Linked DNA regions of Homo sapiens: region 1 is linked to region 2. Evidence: fine-mapped expression QTL. A gene starts in region 2. The other region holds a variant in brackets. All regions are shown on one strand. Distances are between the middles of the regions.

The links. PIP is the estimated chance that this variant, and not a neighbour inherited with it, causes the effect.
Region 1: its variant is fine-mapped to the expression of FGFBP2 in tibial nerve (GTEx, PIP 0.92).

Annotation. Positions count from the first base shown.
Region 1 is chr4:15,994,516-16,007,904 of GRCh38, forward strand. It overlaps PROM1 (prominin 1), which reads right to left. Exons shown (of 28, transcript NM_006017.3): 13 at 12,023-12,175; 14 at 5,981-6,104; 15 at 3,870-3,973. Among named protein-coding and RNA genes, the nearest start is that of FGFBP2, 38 kb to the left of the region's middle. The variant A/G (reference allele first, on the strand shown) is at 5,813.
Region 2 is chr4:15,956,020-15,971,759 of GRCh38, forward strand. FGFBP2 (fibroblast growth factor binding protein 2) reads right to left here and starts at 7,156. Exons shown (of 2, transcript NM_031950.4): 1 at 6,419-7,156; 2 at 4,226-4,592. The coding sequence starts at 7,110. The coding sequence ends at 6,439. It overlaps PROM1 (prominin 1), which reads right to left. Exons shown (of 28, transcript NM_006017.3): 27 at 15,024-15,063; 28 at 12,209-13,349. The coding sequence ends at 15,048. RefSeq lists an enhancer at 7,186-8,027.

The DNA of each region.
Region 1 (13,389 bases), 37 kb after region 2:
ACTAAATATACGCTTAGACGTATATCCTCATGGTGAGGACAGAGATAGGGAGGAGACGCAGACATCTCGATGGTCAGCACAGTTTGGCTGTAACCTAAGTCAGCCCCCTGGGTGAAATGGCCTCACCTCACCATGCCTCAATCATATCTCTAAAATAGGAAAATTTGACTTTTTTAGACTTGACTGAGCTAAGAAGGGTAGGCCTCATTGGATGTGTATTCCTGCCACAAAAATAGCGGCATCCAGGAATGTGGCATCTCTTCCTTGCCACAGCAGCCAGGGCCCTCTAGGCCTGAGGGATGCCTGGAAGAAGCAACTTTCCCACATCCCTAGGAGGTGTGATCCTTCCCTCCAGAGAACAAGCGGGTTGGTGTTGTTGGAACTTAGAGCCTGATGCATGAACAACCAGAGGTAAAACTGGAGGGCTCTGCAGGAGCCAGAATCACAAGGAGCTAGCATGCCAGGCTGAGACACTTGGCTTTGTCCTCTCAGCCTAGGGGTGGTGAACGGGTTTAACTGTACAGAGAAAAGCCAATGGATTGCTAATGTATGCCTAGAGCACGCTGTCCAGAAGGAGCCTGAGGCTCCCTGGGCTAAGCAGAAGACCTCGGTTGACTATCAATGTCTACCCTGAGTATGGGGGATGGGCACTGGACACTTGTTAGCTGCCTCTGCCAGAAGCAATGGAGAAACTTAGGTAGGAAGTGACACATGTGGTTGGGTCACATCACATCATGCTTGGAGGTTTGGAGGATGGAATGGGAACAAGGAGACCAGTTGGAAGGAGAGAGAGAGAGAGAAAAAGAAGAAGAAGACGAAGAAGACGAAGAAGAAGAAGGAGGAGGAGGAGGAAAAGAAGAAGAAAAAGAAGAAAAAGGAGGAGGAGGAGGAGAAGAAGAGGAGGAGGAAGAGGAAGAAGAAGAAGATTTAAGAAAGATTTAGAAGACAAAGCCTACGAGTAACATTTATAAGTTCATTCTGAGTGTTGTCTCAGGGCTCCAGAAGCTCAGTTTTCACTGCCATGGGCTGAATAATGGAAACGAGGACTTTTCTCTGTCCTTTAACTTTGTATTTGGCCCCAAAGTGGTAGTGGGATTTTTAAAAGCTCCCAAAGAGTAGCCTACTGCCCCTACCTCCCTGCCTTTGTCTGTGTCCCTCGGCCGAGGTACCTTTTTCCTTCTTGGCCCAGCCAATCCCCACTAACCTACTAAGATCAGCTTAGGTGCCATTTCCCTCAGGTAGTCCTTCCTAATCCCTCCATTCCCACACTGCATAAGACACCCTCCTTGGGGCTTCTAGAGTAGCCTCAATACATTTCTGTCACCTGTAAGTATCACTGTATTCTAGAACACTTCTTTACAGATCTAACTCCCTGCTAGGTTTTCCTTGACAAGTAGGACCAGAGTCTAATTCAATTTTGTATAATATCTCAGGTATACCGTTACCACAGGTGCTCATATAATAATAAAAGCAGTTGTTAGTATGGTACTTAGCTCGCTTTACAACAGGTGCTCATAAAATAATAAAAGTAGTTAGTATGGTACCTAGCTCACAGAGTGGTGTGGATATTAAAGAAGTTTACACAACCGAGGTGTTTCCATCAGTCTTGGCATACAGAAAGCACCATGCAGGTGCTAGCTCTTAGCATTTTGTTAAATTACCACTATTACCACTTAGCATAATATTTATTAGGTAATAGAAATAAACAGTAATGGCCGGGCTTGGGGCTCACGCCTGTAATCCCAACACTTTGGGAGGCCAAGGTGGGTGGATCACCTGAGGTCAAGAGTTCGAGACCAGCCTGACCAACATGGTGAAACCCCATCTCTACTAAAAATACAAAAATTAGCCAGGCGTGGTGACAGACACCTGTAATCCCAGCTACTCAGGAGGCTGAGGCAGGAGAATCGCTTGAACCCAGGAGGCAGAGGTTGCAGTGAGCTGAGATGGTGCCATTACACTCCAGCCCGGGTGATAGAGCGAGACTCCATCTCAGAAAATAAATAAATAAATAAATAAATAAATAAATACTTAGTAATGACACAGCTACATTTGTTTTAAAATAACTTCTGTGGTTTGGCTACAGGAACTAATGACCATTGATTAATTAAATGTGTGCATATTTCAAAATATTTTTAAAAAGTACAAAAAGAACCTTGCAATACCTAAAAGTATAACAAATTCACAAAATGCTTAAGAAGTCTCTTGAATATCAAATGATGGCGAATACTACTAAGCTATATAATAACGCTAGGCATAGGGTTAATACTTGCTTAAAATTGCATAAAGGAACTCTGAGAGAATAATAAGAACACTAAGAATGGTGGTTCACGTGTAGGGCATGGAAGGGCTTCTGTGTCTCTGACTTATGAAGTGTTCTGCTCTCAATGTGAGTCACTATCGCCCTGTTATTTTTAGTTTCATTCACTATGAACACACCATGTTAACACACACATCCTCCGGCCCTTCGGTCTCACAGTGGGAGAAATAAGTGTCACCAGTGTTTAAAAAGCATCCTGTGAACTGATTTCAAATACTCTTAAAGTGACTCCCTTCCCTGTGGCTCATAGCAGAGAGCTGCCCATGGGTTCACACCTAAGATCAGACACCTAAGACTACCAACCATCAGACTAGGAGCCCATTTCACCACTGAGCAAAAGCAGACACTACACAGTGAGCTAAAAGAAATGCATTTCAATGAAACATATATATATATATGAAATGCATTTCGTTCATATATATATATGAAATATATATTCGTTCATTCATATATATATATATATGAAATGCAAACATATATATATATATATATATGAAATGCATTTCTCTTAGCTCACTGTGTAGTGTCTGCTTTTGCCCAGTGGTGAAATGGGCTCCTAGTCTGATGGCTGGTAGTATACATCACCTGAGGTCAGGAGTTGTTATATATATATATACATAGTTTTTTTGTTTTCTTTTTTCCTGAGAGAAAGTCTCACTCTTTTGCCCGGCTGGAGTGCAGTGGCACGATCTTGGCTCACTGCAACCTGCGCCTCCCTGGTTCAAGCAATTCTCTTGTCTCAGCCTCCTGAGTAGCTGAGTCTACAGGCACATGCCACCATGACTGGCTCATTTTTGTATTTCATTTTTAGTAGAGATGGGATTTCACCATATTGGTCAGTCTGGTCTCGAACTCCTGACCTCAGGTGATCCACCTGCCTCAGCCTCCCAAAGTGCTGGGATTATAGGCATGAGCCACTATGGCCAGCCTAGATGAACAATATTAAGAACAGGTATTGTTTATCAAGTCCAAATGATGTGTCAGGCACCATTCGAATCTCATGTATCTTACTTAACCCTAAAACAACCCCAGGGTCAGATTCCTATGATCATGACCCCCGTGGAACAGAGAAGATGTGGAATTGCCCAGGGCACAGAGCCTCCAGGAGGGGGCCGGGGTCAGAGCCCAGGAGTCCTGACAGCAGACAGCTCTCCAACTGCATTGCCTTCCCCCTATCAGTGATCCAAATCACTGAATCACCTGTTCACTATTCTTGTTGGATGGCTTTTACTTAGAGCAATGTGGTTCTTGAACAAGATCTCTCATGGGGTCCCATTAGTGCATCGTAGGGTCACCTTAACTAGTGAGTTCCAGAGATTATTGGAGAGCGAGACCTTGAAACATCACCATTCCAAGGTCTCAAAGGCTTTCAGTAGAAGGAATATATTTTTGATCTAATTTCTACTGTGTCTTTAAAATAATACAGGACAGCTTATCTCTGAAACATGAAAGTCATATAATTAAGATTTAAAAACACTTCAAATGCAAAATTCTCATTCCAGAAAAAGAACATCTTAAATAGCGAAATGTATAATGCAAATATTGATACCTGTAAACTTGTTCAAAAGTGAGCTTCATTTTTGATTTATTAAATAGCTTCCCAGAGAGATAGTATTCCCAGTCTTCATTTAGTAAGTAGGGTGTATCCAAAACCTAGAACACATTAGGAAGTATTTTCGAAAAATCAGTTTTACACTAACATACATACTAATATAATAAAATTAATATTCTGTTGAATGTATTTTGGAAATTTTTCATAACATTATTTTTCTGGTTGATTTCCAACTTATAACTAGAAAATAATAGTATAATTGGAATAAATCAATTTATTATATTTATTGATGGGTAGCATCAATCAAAATTATTAAAATTACTTTTTTTGAGAACTTTTTTTTTTTGAGACAGAGTCTTGCTCTGTTGCCCAGGCTGGAGCGCAGTGGCGCGATCTCAGCTCACTGCAACCTCCCCCTTCCGGGTTAAAATGATTCTCCAGTCTCAGCCTCCCGAGTAGTTAGGACTACAGGCACCACCACTGCCTGGCTAGTTTTGTAGTTTTAGTAGAAATGGCATTTCTAGTAGAAACAGCATTTCACCATGTTGGCCAGGCTGATCTTGAATTCCTGACCTCAGGTGATCCACCCACCTCAGCATCCCAAAGTGCTGGGATTACAGGCGTGAGCCACCACGCCGAGAACTCTTTAATCTTTAACCTTTATCTTAATAAAACAAACACATTATAAATAGAAGCAGAGTAGACCATTTGATCAGAATAGCTAATATACAGCCATTAAGTGGTGGACCCAGTGCTGCGCTATTTCTCTCTCTGGACAAAATGTATTAAAATTCACACACTTGGCCGGGCGCTGTGGCTCACGCCTGTAATCCCAGCACTTTGGGAGGCCAAGGTGGGCAGATCACGAGGTCAGGAGATCGAGACCATCCTGGCTAACGTGGTGAAACCCCGTCTCTACTAAAAATACAAAAAATTAGCCGCGCGTGGTGGCGGGCACCTGTAGTTCCAGCTACTCGGGAGGCTGAGGCAGGAGAATGGCATGAAACCGGGAGGCGGAGCTGGCAGTGAGCCTAGATGGCACCACTGCACTCCAGCCTGGGTGACAGAGTGAGACTCCGTCTTAAAAAAAAAAAAAAATTCACACACTCTCTGCCTCTGCATCATACATATTTAAGATGGGCAAATCAATGCATGACTGTACGCGCTTGAGAAGTAGAAATGGTTTTGAAATATCCCGTACTTAAGAAAAATTATCTTTGAATGATTCGACACTCTACAGGAGATAATGATGCCTGGCTTGATGTCTTTCTTTTATCAAAAGGCCAAATGGAGATCATTTGACCTGCTGGTGATCTCAACTTAATCTCCCTCGACCAGTGAAATAACTAAAATACTGTGACAACAGTATTCTCCTGATTTCATAACAGATCTTAGGCGGAAAAATGTATATACAATGAAAGAGTGAAATAGAAATATATTTTAAAAATCAGAATCTGGAGAAAAAAAAAACACAGAAAAGCCACAATTAGAAGCCAGACACTTACAACAAAATTTCCTCATTAATGAAGAAAGCAAAACTGCCAACTGGTCCCCCGGAGTCGGTGGGAGTTGGACTGAGAGGGAGAAAGCGAAGCTTGAATTCATTTCCTGGTGGCACTACTAGACGTGTGCCAGGTCAGCCCTCTGCCACGAGTCATCCGCTTATCAGTCTCTTTCCCTTCAAATATAGGGCTCATCTGTGTGGACACCTCTGTCACCTGGGAATCTCCCAGGGTGTGTGGGAGGAACCTGGGAACTGATCTTCTGATGTTCCCAGCCACATTTGGAAACTACTGCTGAGGAAAATTCTTTTCTCCCCAAATACTGCAATCCACATTGAGCGGCAGGACTTTAACTCCTGACCCTGATTTCGCTTATGATCAGAAAATAAGGACGCTCCCATATTTTTTTTTCTCTTACAAATAGAAAGGATCTACTGA[A/G]TTTATTGAATATTTGAAAATTTATTGAATTTAATAATTTCAAGAAATTTACTGAATTTAAACCAAACTGCTTATAAGTTTGCACTGCTCTTAAAGTAATGCACAATATATGAAGAAATCCAAGTTTCTGTTCAAGTCCTTTCATAATGGGTAGAAAATCATATTTACCCGGAATAATTCCTTGCTCGTGTAAGGTTCACAGATCAGTTTTTCCACATTTGCACCAAAGACAAAGGTAAGAACCACAATGATCATCAATATCCAGCAAAAGAGGAAACTTAATCCAACTCCACTGGAAAAAAATATAAAGTTAGTAATTCAACAAAGAATGATTCAATATTACCTACTGATACTTACTAAATCTACCTATACTCTATAAAATAGCCCTGGGGTCTTCAGTGTTATTCAGGTGAAACAGATCATCCACCTAGGAGTGACACAGGGCTTGGGGACCTGGAGAGGGGCAGCTCCAGGACAGGCAAGGGTACACTGGATGGGGGCCTGGGGACCTGGGGAGGGGCAGCTCCAGAGCAGGCGGGGGATCACTGGATAGGGGCCTGGGGACCTGGGGAGGGACAGCTCCAGGGAAGGCGGGGATGTACTGTATAGGGGCCTGGGGACCCACGAGGGGTAGCCAATAAGGGGCTGAAAGCACACGAGGAGCACAACCCGACTTCTCTCTGAACGCAAGCACTCTTGGCACAGTGTAAAGGATAGACTGGACAGGTGCCAACGTGGATGGGACATCATTGCAGAGGCTGTTATCATGGCCCATGAGGGTGGCCTAAGGGGGCAGGATTGGTGGAGAGTTGGTGGATGATGGAGATGTAATATAGGAGACACAGGAGGCATAATATAGGAGGCAGCAGGACTCGGAAAGCGCTGAACACGAGAGGTAGAGGCAAGGAAGGGCTCCAAGGGCAGTGCCAGGGAGCGCTGATGCTCTGGAAGGAAAGAGAAGATGGGCTGGATGTTGGTCTTGTTGCCAGAGACACTGAATGGAAAGACTGTGTAGGAGTCAGTATGTTTGGAGCTCAGATATCTGGGTTTCGGATGTACCTTAGGGAGCCAGCAGCTTAGCCATGGTCATTTATCCCCAGGGCTGGCTTGGAGAGAGAAACAGCCTAGGGCTGGGTCTGGAAGACTTCAACATTTACAAAGATGGGTGGTGGAAGGAGGGGCCAGCAAACCAGACCAAGATGATGAGGCAGAGAAGTAGGAAGGTAACTATGTGGGTGTGATGCCACCTAGGGGACAAAAGGAGTGTTTGCAGGAGGAAGGAATGGTCGGCTGTCACCAACCAATGTGCTGTCTGCATTGCACAGAGAGGTCACTGCCAACTTGAAACAAGTGCAGTCATGGGGGAGGAAACCACATCGGAGTGGACCGGAGAGTCAGCAGGAGAGGAGGGCACAGGCAGCAAGCGCAGATCACTCCTCTGAGAGCCTGTGTGGGGGAAGGAGAGCTATAGGGAAGAGGCAGTGTGGGTAAAGAGTTTCTGCTTTTATTTCTGAAGAAGGGAGAGAACAGAGCCTGGTTAAGTATTGAGTGAAAGTCAAGGAGACAGGAAGAGAATAAAGACATGGAAAAGAAAGGGGATGATCCATTTTATCAGGATCAGGGAAAGGAATGGGATTGAGAATATAGCTGGCGGGATCAACCTGAGCAGGCAGGAATCCCTCTGCTTCTGGCACTGCAGAGAAGGGATGGATGTGTTTGAGAGCAGGTGTGTTTGGAAGTTTGATGATGGGAAGTTGCATGATGGCTTCTATTTTCTCTGAGAAGAAGGAGGTAAAGCCATCTGCTGAGAGAGGGGTGAAGTAGAGGAAAATGGACGTATCAGAGTGAAAAGACTGTTGCAGGAAAGTGTGGGGGGTGTCGAAAAAGAAAAAAAACAGAAAGAGAAGGAAGAAAACAAAAGAAATAAAAGAAAAGATTTGTCAGACTATGGCAAGTCCATTTGAGACAGGAGATCCTAAGTTTGTAGGGATACCCAATGTACCCGGTGCGTAGCTTTTCTCTAGCAGTGCTTAGCTGTCTAGATGTAGACATAGAGAACAAACTCTTAAATCGATCTAGGTGCAGCTGCCAAATCAAATACCATCACTGGTGCACACTAGGAAGGAGCCTCAGAAGGGTGTGGGCTGATGCTCGCAATCACCACAGCATCCCCTCCTAAGGGCACGATTCTCCCCTTTGCCTGCAGATGCCAAAGCCATAATTACAATATTTGTGTATCTTCACTAAAATAAATAGCAAGTAATGTTCATTGGAAAGGCCTAGGTCAGCCTGACTTTCTCTGACCTACAAGGCTTCTGAGTCTGGGAGAGCACAAAGAAGAAGTGAGTGAGGGCCATGCCAGGATCCCTGTCTGAGCATGTGTGTCTGTGTGTTGGAGTTAAACAACTCATATAAACCAAGACAGCTGTCTAAAAAGGGCACCATGACTCTTACTCTAAATCGCATACAGTCACTATCTCCAGCCTTTATTTTCTAAATATGCACATTCCTAGATCAGGGGTAGGGGAACCACTGCCCAAGGTCTGTTTTTCTAAGGTTAGTGAGATAATGGCTAATGTGTACTGAAAATATTGAAAAGGAGGAAGAGGAGGGGGAGAATAAGAGTAAGATGAAAGAGCAAAAGAAGGTGAAAAAGAACAAGAATATGCGACAAAGACTGTGTATGGCCAGCAGAACCTAAAATATTTATTACTTGGCCCTTCTTGGGAAAAGCTTGCTGACTAACCCCTGATTTGCACAGTTAGGATAATACATGCATCATTTTCTGACCCCCTTTCAAATGCATTATCTTAGAAACTTTTGTCAACAAATTAGGACTGTCACCTAGTTATCATTTCAGGGGCCATGTGATCTTCCACGCATGGATGTGTCATAACTCACTTGGCCACTCTTCTACAGCTGGACATGTAGGCTGTTTCCAGTGCTTCACTATCATAACTAATACTGCAAAACACCTCCCTCTTCATGATGATTTCTTCACAGTTTGGCTTACTTCCTTCACCTAGATTCCCCAAAATGGAAATTATTCGGCAAAGAGCATCATGGTCTTTTTACAGCCCTTGCTATATAGCCTGACAAACTGCTTTCCATAACCTCAGAAACTGCCACCAGCCATAGGAATGTGCCCAGTTTGTGATACCTGTGGCTGCTCTTGGCATTGTTGTCAATACCTAAAATGGGAAGTTTTATGATGGGCTTCAAATCACGAGATGCTTGTGCCTCTGTTAGATCTCCTTATCTCTGGAGAGGCCTCCTACGCCCCCCTGCAACAGATAATACATTCACCACTGCATCCTATTCAGCTGCTAAAATGCTCCTGGGGCCAGGGGTAGCGGCTCACACCTGTAATCCCAACACATTGGGAGGCTGAGGTCGGAGGATCTCTTGAGACCAGGAATTCAAGACCAATCTGGGCAACAAAGCAAGACTGTCTCCACAAAAATAAAATTAAAATAAAATGCTTCTGGGACCATCTGAAGATAAAAGATCAGAGCAGAGCCAGGGCTCTCTGACTTTCCTCCTTCCAGATCTTTCACTGGTATCCTTTTGGGAGGTAAGAATTCCTGCTTGGTTTTGAAAGAGACCATGCTCTTGATTGGATGGTGTCACCATTTTTAAAGAGCAGGTGGTGTTTTGGTTGCAACAAAACTACACATACTCTTTCTGGTTTCTACAAGCAAGTAAACAGTTTTAAAAAAAGAAACTGCATTCTTCTAATTAGTCTGATTAGACTGATGACGCTTGTATCATCTCCTCCTTTTGCAATTATCCAGTTGTTTACCAGATACCTCAAGAAGCAGAGAATTCTGCCAAGCACAGCAAAGCGTGCCATGCTGACTGGTTGCATTCAACAATAAAGAAATCATAGCCACCCTAAGTCTGCAGACTCCTTGAAATGAATCAAACAACATCTGACAGTTACCAGCCTTCTTCCTGCTGCTGAGATGAATCCTATGGCCTCCATGCCACAGGTCTCCATGTCTATAGAATTAGTATATCTAAACTAAGGTAGCTTTTAGCCTCCATCAATTTGTTGATGATTTCTCTGTTTTATTTTTTCTTTCTTTGAAGCTTGATATCACATTTTTTGTTGTATCCCTTTAAAAAGTGTGAATAAAATTTCGATGAGGGGTGCACCATTTTTCAGAGCAATTTACCCTACCTTTCAAGTAGTTAAAAAAGATGGAAATATAGGTATATATACACACCCCACCAAAACACTAACAAACAACCAAGTTAAATTGTTGTTAAATTTGTAACATTAAACTTAAAATCAATTAAACATTAAAAGTAATGGCAAAAACTGCAATTACTTTTACAGCAACCTAATAATCTTCTGTTTAATGTATTTTTGTGTATCTGTGTACATTTGAACAAGAAGGGAAGACAAATTCATTTTTCCTTGCAGATGTGATTTCTCCTTTTTTTCTTCTCTGTCCACAGGTACTTGCAGCTAATCTTTCTTTCTTTCTTTCTTTCTTTTTCTTCCTTCCTTCCTTCCTTCCTTCCTTCCTCTCTCTCTCCCTCTCTCTCTCTCTCCCTCCCCCTCTCTCTCTCCCTTCCTTCCTTCCTTCCTTCCTTCCTCTTTCTTTTTTTCTTTATTTCTCGCTCTCTCTTTTTTTTTTTTTTTTTTGACAGAGTCTCACTCTGTCGCCCAGGTTGGAGTGCAGTTGGCACGATCTCGGCTCACTGTAACCTTTGCCTCCTGGGTTCAGGTGATTCTCGTGCCTCAGCCTCCCAAGTACCTGGGATTACAGGTGTGCACCATCATGCCCAGCTAATTTTTGTATTTTTAGTAGACATGGGGTTTCACCATGTTGGTCAGGCTGGTCTCGAACTCCTGGCCTCAAGTGATCTGCCTGTCTCGGCCTCCCAAAGTGTTGGGATTACAGGCGTGAGCCATCGTGCCCAGACAAATATAATTTCTTAAGCTTTGGCCTGTGAGCATCTAAGCTTCTGTTTGTGTGGAGTTCTTTGTCCAGCCCTGGTAGACCTCAGGTCATTAGCTCTAAGGTGATTTTACGACTCTAGTTTGTAAAGGCCTATACCATACTGGAGCCTAATTATTGTAGGGAAAGGATTTATAATCATAGCTTGTAAGAAGCCTGATTTATTGTTCCAGTGACCCAAAGTTTTTTGTTTGTTTGGTGTGTGTGTGTGTGTGTGTGTGTGTGTGTGTGTGTGTGTGTGTGTGAAAATTTGGTTTGAAGACCCAAAGTTTTAAAAAACAAATTAATCAAATTAATGTACAGCATCTGCTCTCCAGCCCGCTCACTCACAGCCCCGTGCTAGTGACTTAAGTGGATAAATGAGAGAACACGACTCAGGTTTTGGTTCTTCACTCCCCAAAGGAATTGTTTCAAACCTTAACCACTGACCTAGAGCCCCATCTCACTCCCTACTGCTGATTCTTCATGATCTTATCAAAAAGAGAATATTGACTTAGAACCCACACAGCTCTCTCCCTGCAGAGCATTCAAAGCCATTACACCACATCCTAGCTTACATTTCTGGCTCTGGCCCCGGTTGCACCTGGCTCATGCCTGCTATGCTTTGTCGTATCCATAGAGTCACAGGTTTTTCAAAGACACTAACTTGGAGGTCAATGTCTTTGAAGCAGGGACAGTCGCTCCAGTCTTCTGCCGCAGGCATACCTCTCCCTGCTGCCTCACACCTGTTCTCACGCCTAATCTAGGCTACCTGTCTAAATCCTAAGGGTTCTGCCTTGGCAGCCTTAGTTCTAAATCAAGTTTCTAGAATTTCAAGCTAGCAATACTGCTGACCAATACTGCTGTCCCACAAGAGATTGGCTCAGCCTCTGGTGAGTGAATAAATGAATGAATGAATGAATGACAAAAAGAAGGAACAATAGAAATCAAGAAAGCAAGTCTAGCTGCTTTTAAAAGGAGCCTGCCATATATAAATAGTGTGCTTAAGCTGGTCTATCAAAATGCAAGTAATTTAGTGTTGTTGTTGTTGTTGTTTGTTTGTTTTTAATGTTTAGGCTTGACAGAAGTACCCAAATCAAGGAAGGTCCCATCACAGCAGGATCTCTCCTCCTCGCGACCTGGGAGCTGGAACCCCGCGTACGTGGCCCAGAGGGCGCCGGGTTCATGTAACACCAGAGTCAGCACCCAGTCTCTCTCCTGCATTCCCACTCCCACATGACAGAGAGGAGCAGACACTCACACCATGAGGAAGACGCCTCCGGTGTTGGAGACACAGCCTCGGGTGGTCGGGGTGGCATGCCTGTCATAGCCGCACACGCCACACAGTAAGCCCAGGTAGTAAAAAATCACGATGAGGGTCAGCAGAGAGCAGATGACCAGGCCACCCAGCCACCTGGAGAGGCAAGCACAGTGTTAGTATACATGACACAGGTGACGCCACCCTAACACAAAAGCTGCTGGACTAAGGCTGGAGCCGATGAGTTATTCTTGGCTTCTAAAATCAGAGTCTTCTATCAATTCCTCAGAGGACAATAATGTTGAGTGAAAAGATCCCTTCACACCCTTTGCCTTCCAATTCAACCAGCGGAGAAACTTTTATTTTGATTCTAGGTTTGCATTGTTCCTGGTGGTCATGGGATCATTGCCTCCTTCCTTTGCTTTGATTCCCACGGGTGTCACACAGGGTTCATAAGCACAGCACACTGAGCTTCTCCAAGGCTACTGATGAAAACACCCTTAAGATTTTTATGTTCTTTTAAGGCCTCTGATGTTCTAAGTGCCTATTATAATAATGAAGGCATATGGCTAGATCATGATTAGACTACAGATAAAGAAATACTGGATTCTTTTCCCTGGGCCTTTTTCTAAAATATTTTGTGGTTGCAGAAATATTTGGGGCCACTGTGTTCTTTACTGAACCAGATTACATGGCAGATGCATGGGGTATTTAGAATTTTATGAGCATCCTAAATCAAATGCCTGCAGAATGCAAATCTCAATTTCATAATGGTCCTGCGAGACATTTAGGATAATGGATCCTCAATTAGGCCTTACTGGCATTCCCGGAAGGGAGAACAACCTTTCCCGGCAGCAAGAGGCATTCAAGGGTAGTAATGCTTCCCAACATTTAAGACACTAAAAAACAAAGAATTTACTTCTGCTTGGTGCCTCTTGACCAAGCAGCACCACTGAAGCTTTTCATTCAATTAAGAGCAATCTCAGTAATTATAGTAATAGCCACAGGCAGCCATTCTGGGGAGGTTTGTTCCAGACAGTGAGGGCACAAAATTAAATAAGCCATGGAGGCTGGCCTCAGAAAACTTTTAGAGTTAAAGGAGCATCTGCTTAGTTAATTTTCTTTTTAAGATAAGTTCATAGTGTCAGGGCAGGGGGAAAAGGAAGGGAGATGGATGGCAGTCAGGTAGACAGGTAATGGTACTATTCTTTCTCGTTTGTGAAGCTCTGATCTCTAATGAGATTATAAGTTCACTGAGAAAGGGTCTGCCTTCTGTTTGTTCTGAGACTTGCTGGGGTGGCCTAGCCCCACAAGGGAATCATGGCAGGTGCTCCCTGGAGCTCGTTGTTTGTGGGGCGATGACAAAAAGC
Region 2 (15,740 bases):
GTCTGGTTGGTGACAACTGACCGGTATATTAAGGACACTCCTCTATGGGGCTATAAGCTATTGACAGCCACTACTGCAGCCTCAGGAGACATTTTTGTAACCCTTGTGGATGCCATGGAAGGGATGCATATGAGGTGAGACAACATGAAGCCAAGTGGGTGACTGGACCCTCCAGCCCTGGTGGCCAGCATCACTGCCTCAATCCATTATTGGACTGGAGATGGTAATCTTGCCACTAACACAATAGACTCAAAAGTTAAACCTCATCTGAGTGCCACAGAGAATAAAATGGCCTACTGGGACTGTGGTTCCTCTGGTTCCTCTCCACAGTTGATCTCTCAGTCTAAAGGTGACAGGGATCATTAGCTCTGGGGGTGGGGCCTGACTTTGTCTGGCAAATACAATACGTTGGTCCTCTGCTGTCACCTGGTGGCCATTACTGGTACGCAGTGGCAATTGACAACTGTCATCATGGAGTTGCCATTCTGTGAAGCTGGCAGATTCCGGCCACACCGTAGTGGCACTGGAGACTATTCTCTGCTTGGCTTAGTATCCGGTTCACTTGTAATTAGACGATGCCGTACTGTTCACAGCAATGGTGCCCCCAGTAGTGGGCTAATGGACAAAACATTCAATGCACATTTCATGTCCTTGGTCTCAGGTTGGCGTCATTTTTAAGTGGTAAGATAGACTTTGGAAGATGTGACTGAGAAAATTACTAGACAAATGATGTTATCGGCACTGTGTCCTACACATCTTTAGCAGACAATGTGAGCATTACATGCAGCTGATCCTCAGAGGAAACATTCCCCTTGGAGGAGGTGATTGGAGAAAATCAGGACAGAAGAGGCAGGGATTCAGGGAGATCGGTTCTCTATGTCTATGATTTCACCATAAAATCTCTCAACCGCTGCTCTTTTTCTTTTTTTAAATTGACCCTACCACCTGGGAATCTTCACTGGTTTCATCATTATTTGACACCATCAGTGACAACACAAAGAGGGTGACTCCAATCTGTTGCTTCTACCACTCCCTGGTTTGGCTTATTGAATATGGAAGATCATATGATTAATTGCTAGAATTTGTGAACTGTAATGAACTCTTTCAGTGGCTGAGTTCTACTACTGTTCCCAGCCCTCATGATTGGTGACCCATCAATGAGGAAGGCCTGGGTGTGGGTGAGTACTTGATTAATAAAGATGGATGTAGCAGTTACTGAATTAGAACAAATAGATTATGTCACTGTCGAAGGAAAGGAGCACCCCCAGTATTAGGGAGAAACCACCCTTTACATTTCAGTGTATAAACAAATTTCAGTTCATTTTTTTGTATCAAGTAATAGTAGATATTCATATTTTTCTCATGGATATGCTGTTATTTCAGCACCTTTTGGTGAAAAGAATTTCCTTTTCTTTTTTAAAATTTCTTTATAAAATTCAAATAAAATACGTATATCATAAAATATGCCATCTTAACAATTTTAAGTGTATAATTTGGTAGTATTAATTACATTTGTTATGCAACCATCACTGCTGTCCACTTCAAGAACTCTTTTAATCTTATAAAACTAAAACTCTGTAAACATTAAACTAACTTCCCATTCTCACCTCACCATAGTCTCTGGCAGCCAACATTCTACTTTTGGTATCTGTGATTTTTGACTAGTCTAGGTACTTCATATCAGTGGAATCATGCAGTATTTGTCCTTTGTGACTGGCTTATTTTATCTGGCATAATGTACTCATGGTTCGTCCATATTGTAGCCTATGTCAGAATTATCTGCTTTAAGGTTTAACAAAGCCTTTCCTTTTAGGATGACTGAAATATTGCTTGGCCAATGTTACTCTGCATAAAACACATGGAAATGTTAAAATACACATTTCTGGGCCTCACCCCAGATACTCTGGTTCAGTTTGTCTGTGGTGGGGCCTGAGAATTAGCATTTTTTTTGAGATGGAGTCCTGTTCTGTCGCTCAGGCTGGAGTGCAGGGGCATGATTTTGGCTCATTGCAACCTCCGCCTCCCTAGTTCAAGTGATTTTCCTGCCTCAGCCTCCTGAGTAGCTGGGATTACAGGCACCTACCACCACGCCCAGCTATTTTTTGTATTTTTTAGTAGAGATAGGGTTTCGCCATGTTGGCCAGGTTTGTCTCAAACTCTTGGCCTAAGGTCATCTGCCCTCCTCGGCCTCTCAAAGTGCTGGGATTACAGGCATGAGCCACCGTCCCCGGCCAAGAATTAGCATTTCTAAAGCTCCCCAGCAGAAGCAGATGCCTCTGCCCCACCTGTCACCCTTTGGGTAGCACAGATTTTCATCTTTAAAATCACTGGTCAGCTATATGGTGATGTTAGTTTAAAATGTTGGTGAAAAATGGTCTGTGACAAATCCCAGCCTATCCTGTGATGTTTACAAATTGAACGCCATGAGCATTAGAATTGGGTGAACCTGGATTTCTCTGCTGTCCTGACTCTTAACAAGCTGTGTACAACTCACCTCTCCAGACTTTCAAGTCCCTTGGTTTATAATTGGGAATAAAACTACTTACCTCCTAGGGATGTAGTGAGAGCTATATGAGGGGGTGAGTGAAAGGCTCAGAGCCCTTATAAGAAATAGACTTGGTATGTCACAGTAGATGCTTGATGTATATATATTTTAGAAACTCAACCCCAGCAAACGTCCCCTGGCTGCCCCCACCCACCGCCTTCTGTGTCATCTCCAACACTCATCAATGTGTTGTCTTGGTTTCCACTACTTCACTGCACTTCTAAGATGTGAAACCTAGTTGGTTAGTTCATGTCTCCCCTAGCCAATGTGTTGCACAGTGCCTGGGACATAGTTGATGATGAATAAATATTTCTTAATTGTGTGAACTACATATAGAGGCCATATTAGTAGTCTTCAACTCAGGTTACACATAGAATTGCCTGGAAATTACTTAGGATACACCCCAGAGATTCTAATTCAATTAATTAAGGGCGGTGTTTCTCAAACTTGGCTGCATATTAGAGTCACCAGGGGAAATGTAAAATTGCACATGCTCAGGCCCCATCCCTGGCCAGTTACACCGTAACCTCTGGTGCTGACGTCCAAGCACCAGTGTTTTTGAAAAGTTGCCCCAGGTGACTCCATTATGTAGCTAGGGTTGGGCACTGCTGGGCTAGTTGGGGAAACAATTTAAGTACATCAAGAGTGGACTAGTGGGCCAGGTACAGTGGCTCACGCCTGTAATCCCAGCACTTTGGGAGGCCGAGGCGGGCGGATCACCTGAGGTCAGGAGTTCAAGACCAGCCTGGCCAACATGGTGAAACCTTGTCTCTACTAAAAATACAAAAATTAGCTGGGCATGGTGGCACATGCCTGTAATCCCGGCTACTCGGGAGGCTAAGGCAGGAGAATCGCTTGAACCCAGGAGGCGGAGGTTGCAGTGAGCCGAGATTGCACCACTGCACTCCAGCCTGGGTGACAGAGCGAGACCCATCTCGAATAAATAAATAGCCATTAGAAAAAAAAGAGAGAGAGTAGACTATTAATGTGTTCTTAGGTAAGACAAATACGAAATTAAGAAGTGAGTCACTTTTCGCGTATGTCTAATAAAATCTAATTTTCTTCCTTTCCAACTCTGTTGATTAATTTAATTGCTGAGTGTACAGGGTTGTTCTTTTTCAGGTTCACTTCTCTATCTTTTTGGCTAGTTGCTATTGCTGCATGGTGGCTGTGCTGGGTTGAATAGTGCCCACCAAAAATTTATGTCCATTTGGAATCTGTGAATATGATCTTATTTGGGAATAGGGTGTTTGCAGACATGATGGAGTTAAGATAAGGTCTTTCTTGATTAGGATGGACCCTAATCCAATGGCTGGTGCCCTTATCAGGAGAGGGAAATTTGACACACACGCAAGGGAAAATTCCATGTGAAGACAGAGGCAGGGATTAGAGTGATATGTCTATAAGCCAAGGAATGTCAAGGATTCCAGCAACTTTAAGAAACTGACAGAGAGGCATTGAACAGATTTTCCCTGAGACCCTCCAGGAGAAACTAACTTTGGTGACATCTTGAGGCACTTCTTGCCTCCATCACTGTGAGAGAACACATTTCTGTTGCTTTAAGCCACCTAGTCTGTGTAATGCACGATGGCACCCTGAATAAAATAATAGTGACTTCATGGGTATACATGATCCCTATAGCATCTAGGTATCACGTTCATTAAGAAGACTAAAGTCGTATTTCTGAAATCATTCTTTTATTTTGCACACACATAGCTGCTATTTACTGAACACTGGAAATTCATGAATGCGTTACATATTTAAACTTTCATAGAAGGCTCAGATCAACAAAGCAAAACTTCTACAGATAATAAGTAGTTGTGTATGCTTGTCACTCTTGGGCCCATCAGCACCTGTTCCCTATCATATTGCTGAACTCTGCAAACTCCAGAAAGGAAGGTTTCTTTTCCAAACTTCAGAGAAGCTGCAGATCAAGAATTTGGGCCGTTGCATCTGATTAGAAACTCTCTTCTTCCAGTGTGAGAACGTTGGATTGAAAGCGGCATAATATAAAAAGAGATGGTTGTCTGTCAGGGAGAGGTCAGATCTAAAAAAAAAAAAAAAGAAAAAAAAAGGAAGGGATGAAAAATTCTTTCTTTGTTGTTATGGGTTGAATTGTGTGAATTGTGTCCCTCCCAAAACCTAAAAACCGTAGACTTAAGTCCTAACCTCCAGTACCTCAGGGAGCGTTTGTATTTAAAGATAGGGGCCATTAAAGAGGTGGTTAAGGTAAAATGGGGCTGTTTGGGTGGGACTTCATCCAGTGTGAATGGTATCCTAACAAAAAGAGATGAGGACACAGACCCACGCAGAGGAATGACAGAGAGAAGGCTGCCATCTATGAGTCAAGGAGAGAGTCCTCAGAAGACACCAATCCTGCTGACACCTTGATCTTGGAATTTCAGTCTCCAGAATTGTGAGAAAATATATTTCTGCTGTTTAAGCCACCCATTCTGTGGTATTTTGCTATGGCAGCCCCAGCAAGCTAATACAGTAGTCCTATGCAGCTTATCTGCAGGATCAAGATATTGTTTTGAGCTTTAGCGCCTGTATGCATCTGTATATACGCTGTACATCTGTCTGTGTAAATACGCATGGATGGATGTCTAAATGGGTACTCTTCTGTTAACATTGTTTATCTCTGTGTGGTGGGATTATGGATGAAGTTTTAAAATTCTTTGTATTTTTCTGTTGTGTTTGAATTTTTCAAATGATTTGTATGTCTTATTTGTAGAAAGACCAAAAAAATCACTTTAAAAAGAAAAAAAAAAGGACCTCCTCTCAATAGTAACTTTTTTTGGCTTAAGTGTCCCCTTTTCTCCTCTGGGACAGATCTGAAATCTTAAACAAGCAGAAAACCTCCAGCCCAGAACAGCAGACACCAAAACAACTTTGTTGTGAACCAACATTTCTTGCTGCCTGGGCGCTTGTAGAAAAAGCCTTATTTGTTTGGTGGTATTCGTTATCAAAGTGCTGTTTATCAGGAAATCTGCTTTGTTCCTATTTTTCTTACATAGATAATATGAAAAAAACTCAGAAACTCTCCTTTTAAACTCAAAGTGCACAAGTAAGACTAGAATCCCATGTAAATGAACTCCTTACTGGTGTGCAAAATTAATGAAAGCTGCTACATTTAAGGATAGAGATCAGTAATAAGCCTTATTTCCACAAGAAAAAGTTTGGTCTTTTAAAAGCAATACTTGGAGTTGATTAAATCTGTTATTATTAATTAGATTTTCTCCTCTGTGATGAACAAAAAACAATTAAAGGCTTTGAGAGCTGTGAGAAAGACTTTAAAGACTATTTGACTCAAACTTTCCTCAGTGCACAACACTCCCCACCCTAACTTGACTGTAGGAGAAAAAACTGAGAACAAGACGGGGTGTGGCGACACCTCCACCATGACATAGCACCTCGGCCACTAACAGCTGCAGCAAATGCTTGGTTCATTAGGAAACGTTACCCGGCAGAATTCCAAAGGCCTCGGTCTAACAGTGAGGTGGTTCCATCACAAGGAGATTCTCAACCTTGGCTGCACATTCAAATCACTTGGGGGAGAGTTTTAAAAGTCCACATTCCTGCGCTACTATGTTGGAGACATAGATGGAACGGTCTGGCGAGGGGCCTGGGCATCAGCATTTTTAGAGCTCCTTGTAGGTGATTCCTATGCAACTCCAGGGTCAAGTGCCACTCCGGATGAACTACCTCATCTACACTGCTCTGCAACAGACAGCCTCAAACCCACCCCCAAACACACGCTGAGACTCTGATGTGGTCGCAGCAGCTGTGAAAGTGCTAAGTGCCTCTCACGTAGTCTCTGTATATAAGTATATACACGTAGTCTCTGTATATGAGTAAAGGAAAGGGTATTACCTGTAGGGGTCTTTCACCTGTCACCCTCGGAAGAAGCTGATGAGAAAGGCGCACAGGGCCTGGAAGGGTTTCCAACAATGTTCCCAGGCCTTCTTCTTTGCTTCCTCATTCCCTCCGGGCCTGGGTCCAGGCTGGGTAGGTTTGGCTGTGGGTCGGGTGGTGGGTTTGGCTTTTCCCAGCTCTTCCATCGAGTCCTTTCCCAGCTGTGTTGCTTCTGTGAGTTTCACTGTGGCCTTGGGCCTCAGAGATGGCGTCCCAGCCTCAGGCTGCTGGTTGGGCTCTGGGCTGCCCTTGAGGCTGGAAGTCACCTGCTGCATATGGGCCTGGGGTCCAGCCTCCCTGCACACGGATGGCCTAAGCACCGGGGCCCCCTGGCACGCATGGTGAAGGCGCCTCAGCTCCTGCAGGGCTTGATTCCAGTAAGGTTTGGGGTCAGCAGCGAAAGCCTGGCACATGCTGGGCTGCCCCCTGTACTCACACCAGTAGGTCTGGTCTGTGTTGCGGCAGTCGACACGAAGCCAGACTTCTCCAGCACCTTGCCCCAAGCTGCTGGGACGCATAGTGCAGGAATCTCTCCCTCCAGTCTGGAAATGGAATTCCTCCCCAGTGCTTCCTTGCTTTTGCCTCGGGGCCTGACCCAAAGTCCCCAGGCAGGACAAGGTCACCAGCAGGAGGCAGGGGACGAACTTCATGGCGATACTCCGATAAACTTGCTTGCAACTCTGCACCAGGAGAGAGAACACAAGTGGGACGAGTCACCCTTTAAAGGGTGCTGCACAAAAGACTCTTTCTCTGCAAGGGTGGGGAGGATGTTTTGCAGCAAATGAGAAACATGCCCACAGACCTTAGACACGTAACACTTGGCAAGGGCAGAGCAGCCACCAGGGGCCGCCCACCACAAGCAAAGGGAATGGTTTTCCTGAGTGCCTCAGAGAGATCTGCCCCAGCCCTGTCACGCACAAAGCGCCACACACAGCTTTGGGGCTGAGGGTTTTACAGTTTTCCAACCACAGGGTGCTTGCTCTAAAATTGGCCCTTGTACGGGAACAGCCTTCTTTGTCAACATTTGGTATATGCCAAGGTGTGGCAGTGGTATTCTGGAAAGTGAGGTTTGCAGCTGGGAGTCTGGGCTGCCTCGAGGCTCCCTCCTGCTCCCTGGAATCCCCATCTTGGGGGACCATGGGTTTAGTTAATCCAAAGGAAGCCAGAATTTTATGAGCCTAAGTGTTATGAGATGGCCTAGCAAATGCAAAAAAGACTATGTGAGGTTGTGTGAGGATGTGTGTGCCAGAGGGACACAGAGACACTCCCCCTCCCACCCACCGAGCTGAGAGTCACCTGGTGTGGCCTCTGTGGGGCTGTCCCGCCATCACCGTGGCCACAGGCCACAGTGCTGCAATGTTCACTTCCCTTGTTATTGCATGCCTTACAATTGCACCAACTGAATGATGACGAGGAAGGCATGCAAATATATGTTCACAGTGGGATTCAGTCTATTTTAGACCATGAATTCTATTTCAAATTCAATTGAAATAACACAGTTTTAATTATATCACAGGAAAATATGATTTTAAATATTATTATTATTGTTCTACAATAGAAAAAAAATAAATTGAAAATAACTTTTGATTCTGTGTCAAGAATCATAGTTTGGTATGGTCATAACTGTCTTTTGATGACCCTTCCAGAGGGCACTGTGGAGTGGACTAAAGGTGGCAATTTGCTGTTAGGAATAGGGTTGACGGATGTTGGGGGACTAGTTTGAATGTGAGGGATTTATCTTGGCGATCCCACGTAGGGTAGTTGGTACCTGGCACAGCCTTCCTTCCACCTGGATATCCTGAGTCCTGAGAAGACCTAGTAGGGCTGGAACTAAAGCCAGGCTGAGCTTCGGCAGCCACTGTGTGTGTAGCAGTGAGAGCCTTCCAGAAGAGGGCATCACCCCAGGTGGGGAGCAGAGGAAGCTTCCAAGAAGTGGTGCCAAACCTTCAAGACAAGTCAGTCAATTTGTCAGGTTGAGAAAGGGTAAAGGGCAGGTGTTTTTTTTGTTTGTTTGTTTGTTTGTTTGTTTTGGCCTCATTCTGTCACCTAGACCGGATTGCACTGGTGTAATTATAGCTCACTGTAGCCTCCAACTCCTGGGCTCAATTACTTCTCCTGCCTCAGCCTCTCAAGTAACTGGGACTACAGGCATGGGCTGCCACACCCAGCTAAATTTTAAATTTAAAATTTTTAGGGACAGGGTCTCACTCTGTTGTCCAGGCCGATCTCACACTCCAGGCCTCAAGCAATCCTCCTGCTTCCTTGTCCTCTGGAGTCACTGGAATTACAGATGTGAACCACCACAACCAGCTAAAGGTAGGTTTTTTTTTTTTTTCACACAGTCTTACTTTGCCACCCAGGCTGGAGTGCAGTGGCACAATCTTGGCTCACTGCAACCTCCACCTCCCAGGTTCAAGCAATTGTCCTGCCTCAGCCACCTGAGTAGTTGGGATTACAGGCGCCTACCACCATGCCAGGCTAATTTTTGTGTTTTTAGTAGAGATGGGGTTTCACGACGTTGGCCAGGCTGGCCTCAAACTCCTAACAAGTGATCCGCCCACTTCAGCCTCCCTAAGTGCTGAGATTACAGGCACGAGCCACTGCGCCTGGCCAAGGGCAGATTCTTAAGGCAGGATAATGCTTCCTGTAAAGGAGTGATCCTGGAGTGCAGGTTTATGGACTGCTGAAATGTCAAGGGCAAGGAGGCAGTGGTGAGAATCAGGCTGGAGAGGTGACTTAGGGTGGGGTCCGCAGCCCCCGTACCAATCCACAGGGCCAGTTCTAAGACAGAGGCTTGCCCTTTGTGTGCTTCCAACTCAGGAGCCCCTGGAGTAAACAGCACTCCAACCCAGGCTCCATGTCGTGGCCACAGGAAGGCAGGTGTTCAGCTCCAACCTCCTTTCCCCCACCCACCACAGTGTTGCAGGGAACAGCTTGCTAGACCCATCTAGACACCCTGAGGTTATGGCCAGCCCTTTTCAATGCCCTAGTGAGGCTGAGTTTACCCTGCAATGGGAACTTATCATAAGAGCTCTAATCACGCTCTTCCTCTTTTCGCTTTTGGGACAAGCCAAACCTCAAGACCTTTGCACTAGTGCCCACTGCCTGAAAATCTTTTCCTTGAACATCGCATGGCTGCCTTCTCCCTGCCACCTTCACAGAGGCCTTCCCTCGCTATACAATGTAAAAGAGCTCTTCTGTTCCTCTATCACTTCATCCTGCTTTAATCCTCTTGAAGGCAGTGATTTCTCTCTTTTTTTTTGAGACGGAGTTTTGCTCTGTCACCCAGGCTGGAGTGCAATGGCGTGAACTTGGCTCACTGCAACCTCCGCCTCCTGGGTTCAAGCAATTCTCCTGTCTCAGCCTCCCGAGTAGCTGGGACTATAGGCACATGCCACCACATCTGGCTAATTTTTGTATTTTTAGTAGAGACAAGGTTTCACCATATTGGTCAGGCTGGTCTTGAACTCCTGACCTCGGATTATCCACCTGCCTTGGCCTCCCAAAGTGCTGGGATTACAGGTGTGAGCCACCATGCTCAGCCCAATTTCTCTTCTTTCTTATTTGCTTGTTCATCTTTTAAGTGTGGAGTGTCATGATCAGATTTGCACTGTAAGAGACTGCTGTGTTGAGAAAGGATTGGTGGACAGGGGGACTTTGTACAGGGAGGGTAGTGGGCAAGCTGGCTCTGTATGGGCTGAGTTGCTGTAACAAAAAGACCTTCTCTATTATGAACCAGTCTTCCAGGTTCATGCCTGGAAGTTCTTCAAATTTAACACATGCCTTCCAAGGTTTGTTTGATTGCTGCCATTTCCAGTGGAACAAGTCCAGGATCTGCAGTTTTGTCTTAGTAGACACTTCACTTACTTACTGCTGGCCTAAGCCTAGTCACTCAGCCACATCTAGCTGCAAGGGAGGCTGGGAAATATAGTCCCCACCAGGTAGCCTATGTCTAGCCAAAACTCAGGGGGCTGGAAGCCTAAAAGAAAGAGGGGAATGCCTCGCTAGCCAAGAGACATTATGAAAACTGTAAGAGGATCTCATCAGTGGGGATGGAGAGGAAGGCTTTGTGACCAAAGGTAGATGGAAGGGAGGGGGAAAGCAGACTTAAGAGTTCCTCCAGCTCCAGTGATAGGGTGAAGGTGGAGAAATTCAAGAAAGGGAACATGGTGGGGAGAACCTGTGGCGATGTGCAGGTCAGGACAGTGGTTTAAGGCAGGGGCCACAAACTGTGGCCCATGTGGCCTGCTTTTGTAATTTTTGAAGAACACGGCAATATCTATTCACTTACGTATTGCCTATGGCTACTTTTGTGCTGCAACAGAGTTGAGGAGACATAGGCCACATGGCCCAGAAAGCAAAATATATTCACTGTCTGACCCTTTTCAGAGAAAGGTTGCCAACCTCTGGTTTAAGGTGCATCTGGGTGGAGACATGTCATGAACACAGGGTTGGCTGGAGCTCTATGTGATGAGAGAACCAAAGGGAGCAGGTGAGGTGATGAGTGAATGAAATTACCCAAGGAGAGAGTGAGGGGCACACCAGGAGAGAACCTGCGAATGCCACCTAAATTTAAGAACTGGAGAGATGAGTGTTGGAAGGAGACTGAGGAATAGACAGCCATGCCCCAAGAGGACACTGGAGAGGGCTCTTTTGGGAGCCTGAAGGGAGATCTTTGTAAAGGGGATGTGTTCACAAAAGTCAAGTCCTCGGTGACCCCGACAATAGCCCTTCAGGAGTGGTGGGGACAGAAGGCAGGTCACAGGAGTTGAAGAACCAATGGAAATGAGAAAGTGGACAGAGATGTGTCGAGAGTTCTTTCAAGGAAATTATTTCCAAAGAGAGAGGGAAAAAAGAAAACATCTTGTACTACCAGGCTGAGTGTGCAATGGGGTTGAGGAAAGGCTGATTTTTTTTTCTTTTTTGAGACAGAGTCTCGCTCTCTCAGCAGGCTGGAGTGCAGTGGTGCGATCTCAGCCCACTGCAACCTCTGCCTTCCAGGTTCAAGCGATTCTCCTGCCTCAGCTTCCCGAGTAGCTGGGACTACAGGTGCCCACCACCACACCCAGCTAATTTTTGTATTTTTAGTAGAGATGGGGTTTCACCATGTTGGCCAGGATGGTCCCGATCTCCTGACCTCATGATCCACCCACCTCGGCCTCCCAAAGTGTTGGGATTACAGGCGTGAGCCACTGCGCCCGGCCAGGCTGATTTTTTTTTTTTTTTTTTTAGCAAAGATAAGAACTTTAGGCTTGAGATACTGAAAAATAAATAAATAAAAGTTGCAAGAGTGACACTAGGAGTATTAAGTTGGCTTGAATAACTTGAATTAATATTTAAATGGGTGATACAAAAATCAGGTTTTCAAAAAATGGGAAGTTAAGAGATAATTTCCTCCAGAAGAATTATACACTATATAGTCTTGTTTAAATTGCAAGCCTCTTGTGTGTTGTTTTAAAAAAATTCATTTTTACTGGTGTATGTTTAGGATTACATCAGGCAAAGTAGAGTTTGCCTATAGTTGGTATCCAATTGTATATATTGTGACCTGGACAGTTCCCTAAGAAATGATGACTTCAGATCTGAAGAAGATCTAAAATATAGCCCACTTTGACCTTGACCTTGAATTACTTCTGTATAATGGGCCCTTTAATAATAATTAATGGAATTCACAAATAACACATGCTCAAATTTCATCATCTAAGTTGTGAGTCGCTGGATCTACTCAAGGAAGTAACATACAGACCATGTTTTCCAAGTTCCTTTTTATTCAAATGAATCAGAACTGCAATCTGCACATGAAAAGACCTGGGGGGAATGCCTACATCTGGAATTTCATTACATCAACGTTAAATTTTGTCCGACCAGTTCTTCATTGCTGATCACTTTTGATAATGACAGATCCAACATGAAACTCCTGAAGCAAATGAATATTTACCTTGTGCTTTCATGCAAATTTAGGGACCAAACTCAAAGGTTTCATCCATGCTGGACACCAGATCTAAGAATTGTGACAGGATCTTCTCATATTTCATTTTAGAACACTTGATACTAGTCTGATGATACTCATGTTAGCTGCACTCCAATTAATGTTTATCGTAATGCAACAGAAAACTCTGTTAAACTGTACACCGTAATTGGCATCTGTTAAAACAACTCCACTTTTGAACGAACAGCATTTCTCTCTCAAGATCTCTCTCTCTCTTTTGAATTTGTCAGATGGAGTTACGCAGGTTTCTCTATGATTGCTTTTGCATGCCATTTCCAAGTGGAACATGGCCAATCTTTGATAAAGTATAATAGATGAAAATCTCTGCGTGAAGAATATGCTGTAGGTTTCACACACTTTTAGTGAAAATGGATTATTTTCAACAGCACCAAGAAGTCAATGGTGACTTATTTAGCTCATTTAGAAGAAAGTCCTATAATACTCATTTGTTTAAAAAACTCTGTGGTAACAAAAGGTATATACACCGTTTACTGTACACAAAATGCATCTTTCCTGTAAACTGGTGTGTGTTCAGCACACTCCACACATGGCAATATGTTAGAATCTAGCCATCACATTTGATAGAGTTTTGATAGAAATGCATCCAATGGGAACAAACACCCCATATGTTGTAGTGTCTAAATAGAAACTCAGTGTAAAAAAGTAAAAAACAAAAATAGACAGGAAGGGAGGGAGTCATCCTTGAATAGTGATGGACCATGGACTATAACGTGATTGTGTTCATTCTTAAAGCACTACCCAGAGACCAATGGTGCCGTTGCCTTGGTGCCCGCCTGAGTCACTACGTTGCCACTGGCGTTGCTCCTGGATTTGGAAAGTCCTTGTAGACCCAGAAACTACCAAAAATCTGTGATCCTTTCCACTTTGAGTATCCTGATGCTGAAATGAAAGTTAAACACAATTTTAGAAATTGCTTTTGAATTAATAAAGAGAAAACCAGGAATGCATAATCCTAAAATGGTCCCCACCAGGAGCCTAAGAACTAAGGAAAATATAAACTCGTTCAAGAGGCACAGCAATATGTTTGTTGCAAAGCAATCTGTTAAAATATAGCAATATAGAAAAAAACTTTGTGGTTTTTGTTTATTTATCTTATTTTATTTATTTATTTTTTTGAGAGGGAGTCTCACTCTGTCGCCCAGGCTGGAGTGCAATGGCGCGATCTCAGCTCACTGCAACCTCCGTCTCCCGGGTTTAAGCCTCAGCCTCCCAAGTAGCTGGGACTACAGGCACCTGCCACCATGCCTGGCTAATTTTTATATTTTTTAGTAGAGATGGGGTTTCTCCATGTTGGCCAGGCTGGTCTCGAACTCCTAACCCCAAGTGATCTGCCCACCTCAGCTTCCCAAAGTGCTGGGATTACAGGCATGAGCTACCATGCCCAGCCAGAAAAAATTTTAAGTCCATAATACTCAAGGTACGTGGTTGGTACACAGATTTCTATATTTTTGTTTGTTTGTTTGTTTGTTTAGAGATAGGGTTTCACTACATTTTCCAAGTTGGAGTGCATGAGTGTGTTGGCTATTCACAGGTATAATCATGGTTCACTGCATCTTTGAACTCCTGGGCTCAAGCAATCCTTCTACCACAGCCTCCCACCCCAGTAGCTGGGACTACAGGCAGGTACCACCATGCCTGGCTTATTGTTTTACTCTAAAAAAACACTTTCTTTTCTTTTCTTTTTTTTTTTTTTTGTGATGGAGTCTCACTCTGTTGCCCACGCTGGAGTGCAGTGGTGTGATCTCGGCTCACTGCAACCTCTGCCTCCCAGGTTGAAGCGATTCTCCTGCCTTGGCCTCCTGAGTAGCTGAGATTACAGGCAGGATTACAGGGGCCCCCCACCACACCCGGCTAACTTTTTTTAGTAGAGACAGGGTTTCACCATGTTGGCCAGGCTGGTTTTGAGCTCCTGACCTCAAGTGATCTGCCCGCCTCGGCCTCCCATAGTGCTGGGATTACAGGCGTGAGCCACCGCACCAGCCCTTATTTTTTTACTTAAAAAATCTTATCTTTTTAAGTAAAAAAATTTTATTTTTTTAATATACACCCACATACTCACTGTGTGTGTGTATATATATATATAAATACACACACATTTATATAGCAATGCATATATATACAGAGAGGGTCACTGTATCGTATGTATACATGCAGTCGTCCCTCTGGATCCATGTGGGATTGGTTCCAGGACCGCTACACACATCCTCCTACATACTGTATATCATCTCTAGATCACTCAAAATACCTAATACAATGTAAGTGTTATGTAAGTAGCTGTTATACTGTATTGTTTTTATTATTTTTATTTTTGTACTGTTATTTAAAAAAAAATTTTTTTAGAGTATTTTTGATCCACAGTTGGTTGAATCAATCGGTGGATGTGGAACCTGCAGGTACAGAGGGTGGACTGGACATATAAAATATCTTGTCTAATATGCTGATCTAGATTTCCCACTTAATGTGGCAATGTATTAGGAATAGCTATGTTTTGATGTTCTAAAAACTAAAAACTATAGTCCTGTAGATTCTCTTCAATGAAAGCATCAAACTTACCTCAAGCAGTTTCAACATCAGCTATCAATGTTGTGATGGGCTAAAAAACAAAAAAATAAAGAAATATAATACCCCCAACAAAGCTGTGGGTGGTTTCATCACCTCTGTGCTAAGAAGCAGGCATGTGACTAAAGGTACAGACGAATATAAACCACACCTCATAAAGTTTATCAAGAAGAATGTGTCAGACAAAACACTGGTTACTCTAGCTTCTGTTTGTATTGCTTTTAAAAACAGCATAGAAGATAAAGAGGATAAACAGACTATGACAAGTAAGAATTGTGAATATTCACAATCTAAGGTTAAAAGTGTTAAGAGTCACTAAGAATACGTGTTGAAGACATTAGACCAGCAGCAACACAGCAGTACACATGTCTACCACAAGAGTCTTTCTAAAGTCCACTTCTAGGACAGAAGACAGAAGCAAATGGAAGTTCCGCAGGGACCTTGTTACAACTACAAATTCCTGGGTGTAAGATCAGGCAGTGCACACGGCCTCTAAGTGGCTCTCTGGGTGAACCATCAACAGTAGCCCTAGTGTCCTCTAAAGTGACTCTGTGATAATGGCCTTGACAACCAAAAAGGTATACGCCAGGGGGAGACTAGTGAACTCCATCTGGAAGGTCGGCAGTTTCAACTCTGGCACACCCTGCCCGACTGTGACTTCAGGTGGATCACAACCCCTCTGAACCTGCAGGATCCACCGTGCCTCACTGC